Linked DNA regions of Homo sapiens: region 1 is linked to region 2. Evidence: fine-mapped expression QTL. A gene starts in region 2. The other region holds a variant in brackets. All regions are shown on one strand. Distances are between the middles of the regions.

Region 1 (5,381 bases), 79 kb after region 2:
AAAAAAAAAAAAAATGCAGGATCCATTGCAAGGAACAGCAACATTATTTAGGACAGCTCTGATATCATGACATCTATTAAATTTGCCTAAACATGAAAGAAAAGTATTAACAGACTTATTCTAACTATGGATTTCATTTCAAAGGAATATAAATGTAGTTCAACTAAATTTCATTTAAATAATCATTCCAGGCTGGGCACGGTGGCTGACACCTGTAATCCCAGCACTTTTGGGAGGCTGAGGCAGGCAGATCAGTTGAGGTCAGGAGTTTGAGACCAGACTGGCCAACATGGCAAAACCCTGTCTCCACTAAAAATACAAAAATTACCCCGGGTGTGGTGGCGCACGCTGGTAATCTCAGCTACTCAGGAGGCTGAGGTGGGAGGATCATCTGAGCCCAGGAGGCAGAGGTTGCAGTGAGCCAAGACTATGCAACTGTCCTGAGTGATAAGAGTGAGACTCTGTCTCAAAATAATAGTAATAATAATAATCACTCCAGAGGGTTGCACAATAATTTAGATGCTTCAAATAGGAAGATATGAAGTGATTCTATTTGTGTTCTATTCCTGTATGAAGGAGGCACTGCTAATGGAAAGAACCTTCAACTGGCCTATTCAGCCCAGGCCTTCCCTGACAGTCAAGTACCTTGGTAAGTACCCTGAGCAAGGTAGCCCAACTCTCTTCCTTCCCATGGTGCTATGGTTTGTCCAAATTATAAGCACCCCCCAAGGAAGCATCCCAACAGAAGCTGCCACCCAAACACGTCATACAGCTAAACTATGTGCACATCCCAAATTCAAAACAAAACCACAAAAATAAATGTACCCTGTAAGACTTAGTTAGCTTAGCTATGTTATAAAACAATATGTCCTGTATGATTACAATTTTTCTAAAGTATAATATATACAGAAATGTATACACCAAAATATATCTCCATGGAGAGATTACAGGTGGCATCATTTTCTTTCTTTGTATTTTTATTCTATTTTTTGGCCTGCCATCCCCACTTCTTTAGTTTGTTCGTTTGTTTGTTTTCGTCAGCAGGGTTGTGGCCAGAAAACAAGTCCTATCAGTCTCCTACCTCACTTCCCCTTTAGAAATTAGATACAATTCCTCATCTTTTTTTTTTTTTTTTTGAGATGGAGTTTCGCTCTTGTTGCCCAAGCTGGAGTGCTGTGGCACGATCTTGGCTCACTGCAATCTCCGCCTCCTGGGTTCAAGCAATTCTCCTGCCTCAGCCTCCCAAGTAGCTGGGATTACAGGCGCCCACCATCACGCCCGGCTAATTTTGCATTTTTTTAGTAGAGACGGGGTTTCACCATGTTTGCCAGGCTGGTCTCAAACTCCCGACCTCAAGTGATCCACCTACCTCGGCCTCCCAAAGTGCTGGGATTACAGGCGTGAGCCACCGCACCTGGCCTTCTTTGTATTTTTAAAATATAGTCCCAAATTTCTCTCTTTTTTTTTTTTTTGAGACAGAGCCTCGCTCTGTTGTCCAGTCTGGAGTACACTGGCACCATCTTGGCTCACTGCAAACTCCCCCTCATCAGTTCAAGCAATTCTTGTGCCTCAGCCTCCCGAGTAGCTGGAATTACAGGTGTACACCACCATGCCTAGCTAATCTTTGTATTTTTAGTAGAGAAGGGGTTTCACCATGTTGGCCAGGCTGGTCTCAAACTCCTGACCTCAAGTGATCCACCCACCTGGGCCTCCCAAAGTGCTGGGATTACAGGCGTGAGCCACCACACCTGGCCTTCTTTGTATTTTTAAAATATAGTCCCAAATTTCTTTTTTTGGGGGTGGGGGGTGGACAGAGTCTCACTCTGTTGCCCAGTCTGGAGTACACTGGCACCATCTTGGCTCACTGCAACCTCCACCTCCCCAGTTCAAGCAATTCTTGTGCCTCAGCCTTCTGAGTGGCTGAGATTACAGGTGTGCACCACCACGCCTGGCTAATTTTTGTATTTTTAGTAGAGACGGGGTTTCACCATGTTAGCCAGGCTGGTCTCAAACTCCTGACCTCAGGTGATCTGCCCACCTCAGCCTCCCAAAGTGCTGGGATTAGAGGCGTGAGCCACCATGCTCGGCCAGTCCCAAATTTCTATAACAAACACTTTGTGACCAATAAAATGAACAAATATTTCCAATGAAAATAAAAGTTCAATTATTTGAATTATGTTTTACCCCTAGGCTGTTAGAAGTTTTAAGATGTATTCTTGCTTTAGATTCATAACGTAGAGTGGCAGAATGTTTCAGGCAAAATCTGGAAAAATGAATTATTAATATAAAATTAAATGTAGATGGTAGAAATGTAAGATGATACAGCTGCTATAGAAAACCAGATGGTGATTCCTTAAAAAAAAAAAAAAACATTAGAATTATATTATCTAGATAAACTCCATTTCTAGCATATACCCCAAAGAACTGAAAGCAGAGACTTGAACAGATAGTTGTATACCAACGGTCAAAGCAGCATTATTCACAATAGCCAAAATGTGAAAATAATCCAAATATCCATGAACAGATGAATGGATAAACAAAATGTGGTCTACACATACGATAGAATATTATTCACCCTTAGGAGGAAATTCTGATACATACAACAACAGGGATGAACCCTGAAGACATTATGCTAATAAGTTAGACAAATATTGCATGATTCCACTTACATGAGGTACCTAGAACAGTCAAATTCATGGAGACAAAGTAGAATTGTGGGTGCCAGGAGCTGGGGGGAGGTAGGAATGGGGAGTTACTGTTTAATGGGTACAGAGTTTCACTTTGGGGTGATGAAAAAGTTCTAGGCAACAAATATGTGAAAAAATATTCAACATCACTAATCATCAGAGAAATCCAAATCAAAACCACAATGAGATACTATCTCACACCAGTCAGAATGGCCATTATCAAAAAGTCAAAAACAAAAGATATTGGCGAGGCTGTACAGCAGAGGCAACACTATACACTGTTAGTGGGAATGTAAATTAGTTCAGCCACTGTGGAAAGCAGTTTGGAGATTTCTCAAAGAACTTAAAACAGAACTACCATTCAACCCAGGAATCCCAAGACTGGGTATACATCCAAAGGAAAATAAATTGTTCTAC[C/CA]AAAAAAAAAAAAAATGCACCTGTATGTTCATCACAGCACTATTCACAATAGCAAAGACATGGAATCAACCTAGGTGCCCGTTGACAGTAGATTGGAAAAAGAAAATGTGGTATATATACACCATGGAATACTACATGGCCATAAAGAAGAACAAAATCATGGATGCAGCTACAGGCCATTATCCTATGTGAATTAACACAGGAACAGAAAACCAAATACCACATGTTGTCACTTAGAAATGGGAACTAAATATAGGGTACACGTGGATATAAAGACAGGAACAACAGACACTGGAGACTACTACAGGGGCAGGGAGGGAGGGGTACACAGGCTAAAAAACTACCTATTGGATACTATGCTCACTACCTGGGTGACGGAATTATTCGTACTCCAAAGCTCAGCATCACACGCTATACCCATGTAACAAACCTGCATATGTACTCCCTGAATCTAAAATAAAAGTTGAAATTGGGTCAGGTGTGGTGGCTCACGCCTGTAATCCCAGCATTCTGGGAGGCCAAGACGAGCAGATCACAAGGTCAGAGATCGAGACCATCCTGGCTAACACGGTGAAACCTCGTCTCTACTAAAAATACGAAAAAATTAGCCGGGTGTGGTGGCGGGCACCAGTAGTCCCAGCTACTCGGGAGGCTGAGGAAGGAGAATGGCATGAACCTGGGAGGCGGAGCTTGCAGTGAGCCAAGATTGCACCACTGCACTCCAGCCTGGGCGACAGGCGTCGCAAAAAAAAAAAAAAAAAAAAAAAAAAAAAGTTGAGATGATTTTTTTTAAGTAGTCTAGAGATTGATGGTGGTGATGATTGTACAACAATGTGAATGTACATAATGTGACTAAAATGTGTAATTAAAAATCATTAAAATGGTAAATTTTACACTATATACCTTTTACCCCAATTTTTTAAAATCAAATAATCATCCTGTGGGCTTTTATCAAGACTGCATTAATAAACTCAAAGATACATTTCTAAAATTAAATATAGAAAGGTTTCAGTCCTAAAAAATGTGTTTGGAAAAGTAAAATCATACTGTTTTAATCATGTCTTGAGAATATAAGTTCAGATTAGGGAAATTCTCAACGGAGCATTTATAAAAGAAATATAGCCTTCTTAGAATTTTCCAGTGCATACAGCAATTTAAACCAGACCAAACAAATTGCTAAGATGACAGGTCCTTCCAGGGCTTGTCATCTTGATAATTATAAAAATGATGAGCTGTAATTAGAATGTCAGTCATCTTTAAATAGTTACTTCTGAAGTACCTCACTAAGATAGTAATTTTTTTGCAAGCCTTCCATGTTTTATTTAGGAAATACTTTCTGAAAAACAATATTAATGTGTTGCAGCCTGAATTACCACTCTTTATGAGTTATTATTAGGTGAATCAATGACTTTTTTTTTTAACTGTATAAAGATAAAACAAGGGTGCAAGGAAAGAAAAGAGGAACGCAAAAATGCAAGCAGAGGTAGAAAGAGTGTAACGTCCTTAAAGATAATATGCCAACCCACTTGGCTCTTCGTATTTTCTCTGGCACTTGAAAATACATCCTGTATCCCCACTGCACTTATCCTACGTCCATTAGTCCTACAGATCAATATCCCATTCCCTGGGATGGCTTATCCTAGCTATTGGCACTGTCCCTCAGAGAACTTGTGGCATGAGGAAGAAAAGGTTATTTTACTTTATACTCTGAAAGCAAATTCAGTCAGGACAAACACAGGCCTTCCAATTTTAGAAATCTACATTTAGAACTGGAAGGCTGAAGGAGTAATGTAGCAACTAATCTTTTAATTCCCCTAAGAGCACATTTATTTTACTTTCCCCAAGGAACAAATATTAAGGAAAGGCTAATTTTATTTTAGTTTATTTTACTGATCTAGCAAAAATATATTTCAACATGCTTATGGAGATTTTAAAAACAACAGGAAATGGAGAGAAATGGTACAGGAAAACTGGTTTTGATGAAATAATGTTCTCAATATTAAACAACAGTGGAAATTTAGGGTTGATCTGTAAGCACATGGCTTCCACACAGACCTCAACTAACCAGAATGTATTTGTTTGGGCTAGTTTAAATTGCTGTTATGTACTGGCTTTTAAATGCCACCAATAGGGTATTCTACCTTTAGATCTGGCTTCTACTGACCTTAGAGCTAAGGAAAAGAGTGGGAAAAGAGTAAGCAATCCTTCAGCATTGGCGAGCACCAAGATTCTGACGCTTCTGGTGTCATTTTAGAAGCATGAAATGAGTTTGTGTCA
Region 2 (5,381 bases):
TATTCTGTCAGTTTTATCTTCTTGGAGAAATTTCTCCTAAAATCTTGATTTGCTTTAGTCTGGACTGGTTCATAGCCATCATCTTCCATCAGTACCCCAGAGATTCACTTTGTCTCTTATGTGGGATCTGTTTCCAGTTAGATGCCATTATTTTCCTTTTCCTTGGTTTACTCTTCCACATATTGGTAAAGCTCTTCCAATAGCTTTTGGAAAGGAAAAATGAAAAGTAAATGTTTTGAATCTCTGTGTGTTTGACAATGTCTTTATTTTACCCTTATACCTGATTGCTGTTTTGGTTGGCAAGGTATAGGATTCTTTAGTGGTCTCCATGCCCAGTTTTGAAGACATCTGCTAGCTTTCAGTGCTGTTGCTGTGGAGTCTGAAAATCTGTCTTCTGGCTTCCAGGGTGACTACTGGAAATTGAATGCCATTCTGTTCCTTCTCTTTTGCATATATAATCCATTTTTATCTCTCTTGAAGCTTATAGGTTTATCTTTGTCTCAATGTTCTGTCCCTGTTAAGAGTCCATTTTCATCCTTTGTACTAGGTGCCTGGTGGGATCATTCCGTCTGAAACTAATGATTTCCCATCTCTTCACTGTTTCTGGAATTCCTGTTTTCCAGATGTTAGACCTCCAGAATTTGATCTCTAATTTTCCTATCTTTTCTCTTAACTTTCAGCTCTGTCTTCTTGCTAGGACCTTTTCCTAGGAGCATTTCTCAATTTAATCTTCCAGTTCATCTGTTGCATTTTATTTTTCTAGTCTCATATTGTCTCATATTTTTAATTTCTAAGAGCTCCCCTTCTCCGAATATTCTTTTTTTTTAATAGCATCCTATTTTGGCTCATGGTTGCAGTATTTTATCTCCTTGAAGATGTTTGTGTGTTTATGTATGTATATGCACACACGTATACATACACATACAGGCATGCATCTCTGTATTCTTTCGGCATAATCTGTGTCCTCCAGGGTTTGTTTCTTTGTTTCCCCTGTATGTTTGTTTTGGTCGTTCACATTATAGGCTTTCCTCAGAGTTAATGGTCTTGGTAGTCTACTCATATTTAAGTGTGGAACACCAAAAAGCTTACTATAAGCTGAGAGTGTGGTAAAGGGCTCTTTGTTTTACTATGACCTACCTGAGCTATCTTGCTGGGGAACACCCTAATGTCAGTCTCTTTATAAAGGGCCTTTCATTTTGGCCTGGCAAGAAATACTCTTTCATCCTCCTGCATGGAGGGCAAAAAAAAATTTAAAAATTGGCTGCTAGGGTCTGTCTGCTCACTTCCCTGTTTTGCAGACCCCACACTCTTCTGCAATTCATTTCATAGTTGTCAAGACTATACAAATTGTCCTTTTTAATGTTCTCTCTTCTGCTATCCCTAGTTGGCAGTCTTCCTCTTTACAACCTGCTGAAAGTGGAAGACCTCCAGTTTTCCTTTAATTCCTCAGCAAACCACCAACTATTATATGTCTTTTTTCCAGAACAACTTATTTTTTAACTATAATTATATGCATTTATGTTAGATTCACTGAAAACCTCATCTTGTATGGTGCTCTGTACCCTATGGGTGCTAAATAAAGGCTTGCTACTGGCAACTGGATTTAGGATCGGCTAATTCTGCGTCCTTTTAAGATATGCTTATTTAAGCCAAACTCGGTATGATAATTTTTTTTTTTTTTTTTTTTTTTTTGAGAGGGAGTCTGGCTCTGTCGCCTAGGCAGGAGTGCAGTGGCGCGATCTTGGCTCACTGCAACCCCCGCCTCCCGGGTTCAAGCGATTCTCCTGCCTCAGACTCCCGAGTAGCTGGGATTACAGGCGCCCGCCACCAAGCCCGGCTAATTTTTGTATTTTTAGTAGAGACGGGGTTTCACCATGTTGACCAGGCTGGTCTCGAACTCCTGACCTCGTGATTCGCCCACCTCGGCCTCCCAAAGTCCTGGAACTACAGGCGTGAGCCACCGCGCCCACCCGGCCAGTATGATAGTTTTTAGGAGGAACCCTCAGGAGAGTGATTGTTTCTCCCGCTGTGTTGTGGGGGGTGGAGTAGGGAAGCCTGGCGTTTGGGGTTTTTTTGTTTGTTTGTTTTTTGTGTGTGTTTGTTTGTTTGTTTGTTTTGAGACGGAGTCCCGCTCTGTAGCCCAGGCTGGAGTGTAGTGGCGCGATCTCGGCTCACTGCAAGCCCCGCCTCCCGATTCAAGCGATTCTCATGCCTCAGTGTCTGGAGTAGCTGGGATTACAGGCACCCGCCACCATGCCCAGCTAATTTTTGTATTTTTAGTAGAGACGGGGTTTCACCATGTTGGTTAGGCTGGTGTTGAACTCCTGACCTCGTGATCCGCCCTCCTCGGCCTCCCAAAGTGCTGGGATTACAGGCGTGAGCCACTGCTCCCGGCGTTTGGGTTTTTTAAGCTATTCAAATTAAGACTAGACTGGAATCTGGAGCAGTGTGTGTGACAACCCCTCTCTGCACACCCAACTTTCCCCGGGCCGGCTAGTGACTCAAAGCGACAGCCCAGATTTAAGAAAACGAAACCTAGTGCAGCTGGGGCACTTCCGGGATCTCGCTATCCGGCCGCCACCCGCAGCTGCAGCACAGTCATGGCCCAGGCGTCGCCGCCCCGGCCCGAGAGGGTGCTCGGCGCCAGCAGCCCGGAGGCCCGGCCCGCGCAGGAGGCGCTCCTCCTTCCCACCGGTGTGTACCGCGGGGGCGGGCGGGCGGGCGGGCGGGGCTGGGCAGCGACGGGCCCGGTCAAGGGGCCTGCCTTCCGGTCGTGGCCGCATGGGGGCCCGACCTGCCCCTACTCCGGGCCGGGGCCCTAGACGCCGGGGCGGCGCTGGACGAACTTGGCTCACCACTCGCGTGCCTGTTGGTGGGGGAGGGGGCCAGAGGACAGGGCGCGGCCCAGGCCAGTTCCACAGGTGGCTCTGACTGCCCATGGTTTCGCGCGAGTGGTGGGCACGCTTCGGTTTACCTCCCCCGCGGGTGACAGCCCAGTGCTTCCACCACAACCGATGTCAACTCTCCTAGCGCCCCTCCGCTCACCGGTAAACCAGGACAGTGGAGGGGCGCCCTGATGCGGTGAGGCAGGGGGCGGCCCTGAGGGAAGAGCTGGGTCTCACGTTCACGGAGGACGTGACTGGAACCCGTCTCCCCTTCTCCAGTCGTTCCAGTCCTCCCCGGCCCTCTACTTGAGTGGGTGGGTCTTCTGATGGGTTCCTGCCCTTGCGTGTGTGTATAGCTCCAAACGGTGTGCCAGGCTCAGGGCAAGGTCCTGAGCATACAAAGATGAGTTAGGCAGACCCTGCCCTAGAGACTCTACTAGGCAACTTTAATGAGGAGGTCAGAACCACAGAGGTACAGATGAGAGACTCCTGACTCCCAGTCTTCAGGGAAAGCTTTTTGAGGAGAGGATGGCTGGGCTTACCCTTTTTTTTTTTTTTTTTTTTTGAGAGGAGTTTCACTCTTGTTGCCCAGGCTGGAGTGCAAAGGCGCTATCTCGGCCCACTGCAACCTCTGCCTCCCGGGTTCAAGCGATTCTCCTGCCTCAGCCTCCCGAGTGGATGGGATTACAGGCATGTGCCACCACGCCCAGCTAATTTTGTATTTTTAGTAGAGAGGGTTTCTCCATGTTTCATGGGCTTACCTTTAAAGGGCAAGACTCAGCCAAAGGTGGAAAAGTTGAAGGGGTGTTCCCAGCAGAGAGGATGACACAAAGGCACCAAACCACAAAACGTCACACGTAAACATCATACGTGGCAACCACAAGCCAATCAGTTGGATATTTCATTCATTGGTATACATATGGACTGTAAGGTAAGTCACGGGAGATGCGCTTCCATCCTGACCTCTTCCTCAAACTCCAGACTGGTATAACCAACTTCTTCCATTTCTGAAATGATCTCAAACTGAGTATGTCCCAAAGAGAATTCTTGTTTCCTCCACTGTATTCAGGTACTCCAAACCTGCTCAACCACCAGCCCATTCCATTCGCCCAGGTGCTCCTTGCAAAAACCTTAGTGGCTCCTCAGGGCCTCTCTTTCCTCCGGACACCCCTTCTAATGCATCAGTCGGGCCAGCCAGTTCTGTGTTCAGCCTGACTGTATCTGGAGCCTGACTGCTTCTCACCACTTCCATTACTGCCACCCAAGCCTACGCCATCATGATCTTCTGTCTGGACTATTGCTTTCCTGGCTTCTATTCTAGCCTTTAATACAGGCAGGCCTGCAGAGCGGCCAAAATGCTTTTTGAAAAACAAAAAGCAAATGTGATTCTCCTACTCAAAACCCACCAATAGTCTCCCATGACTCTCAGAACAATCTATGAGCCTGGCCTGCAGTTTACCCCATGTCCTTATCTGATTTGACTCCTGCCCATCTTAATGACTCTGCTACCCTGCTACCTTGTAGGTCCTCTAAGCCACCAAAGCTGTCCCTGCCTCAGGATCTTTCCATTTGCTATTCTCTGCAAGGAAAACTCATTGCCACATTATCCCATTTTCAGTTCCCCATCATATTCAGGTGTCTGCTCATATACATCTTCCCTCAACCTTGCCTGCCCATCCTGTCTAAAAGAGCACCCCTTGCCCCTGCTCCTGTCACTCTCTACCTCCTTCTGCTCTATTCTTTCTCTATAGTACTTATCACTACCTGGAAAACAAAACAAAACTTGTTTAATGCCTGTCTCTACCACTGGCCACTGGCATGTAAATTCGTCTTACTCTCTTCTATCCTTAGTGCCTAGACTGGTTGGCCTAGTAGTAGTAGTAGGACATAGTAGGTACTCATTAAATATTAAATAATAGTAAGTCCTCATTAAATATTTGTTGAAGGAATGAATGTACTTGTATATAACACTACGGAGCTTGACTTCTGTAGGTGATGGGGAAATATGAGCAGATGTCCATTTCAGGTAGATCATTCTGACAGTAACATAGTACATTTCCGGTAGATCATTCTGACAGTAACCTAGCACATTTCTGGTAAATCATTCTGACAGTAACCTAGTACATTTCCGGTAGATCATTCTGACAGTAACCTAGTACATTTCCAGTAGATCATTCTGACAGTAACCTAGTACATTTCAGATAGATCATTCTGACTGTAACCTAGTACATTTCCGTTAGATCATTCTGACAGTGACCTGGTACATTTCAGGTAGATCATTCTGACAGTAACCTAGTACATTTCAGGTAGATCATTCTGACAGTAGCATAGTGCATTTCAGGTAGATCATTCTGACAGTAACGTAATACATTTCAGATAGATCATTCTGACAGTAATATAAAGAATGCAGTGGGATCATGACAGGGAAAATAGAGACAAGGACAAGAGATCACTGGAATAGACTAGGTGAAAGACCCTGAGGGTAAGGCAGTCCAC

Alleles and levels. Positions count from the first base shown, and alleles are read on the strand shown. Sizes are in standard deviations (SD) of each study's normalised expression.
With allele CA in place of C in region 1, the expression in subcutaneous fat of the gene that starts at base 2,552 in region 2 is lower (moderate effect, 0.43 SD a copy in FUSION).

The links. PIP is the estimated chance that this variant, and not a neighbour inherited with it, causes the effect.
Region 1: its variant is the best candidate, but not a certain one, in a credible set for the expression of PHF11 in subcutaneous fat (FUSION, PIP 0.85).

Annotation. Positions count from the first base shown.
Region 1 is chr13:49,572,330-49,577,710 of GRCh38, forward strand. All of the region lies in intron 2 of RCBTB1 (RCC1 and BTB domain containing protein 1), which reads right to left. Among named protein-coding and RNA genes, the nearest start is that of RCBTB1, 11 kb to the right of the region's middle. The variant C/CA (reference allele first, on the strand shown) is at 3,105.
Region 2 is chr13:49,493,402-49,498,782 of GRCh38, forward strand. It overlaps PHF11 (PHD finger protein 11), which reads left to right and starts at 2,552. Exons shown (of 10, transcript NM_001040443.3): 1 at 2,552-2,694. The coding sequence starts at 2,601. The region is part of intron 12 of SETDB2-PHF11 (SETDB2-PHF11 readthrough); the gene reads left to right. SETDB2 (SET domain bifurcated histone lysine methyltransferase 2) reads left to right here. Exons shown (of 14, transcript NM_001160308.3): 14 at 1-1,602. RefSeq lists enhancers at 1,358-2,043, 2,354-2,593, 3,084-3,133 and a silencer at 2,614-2,893.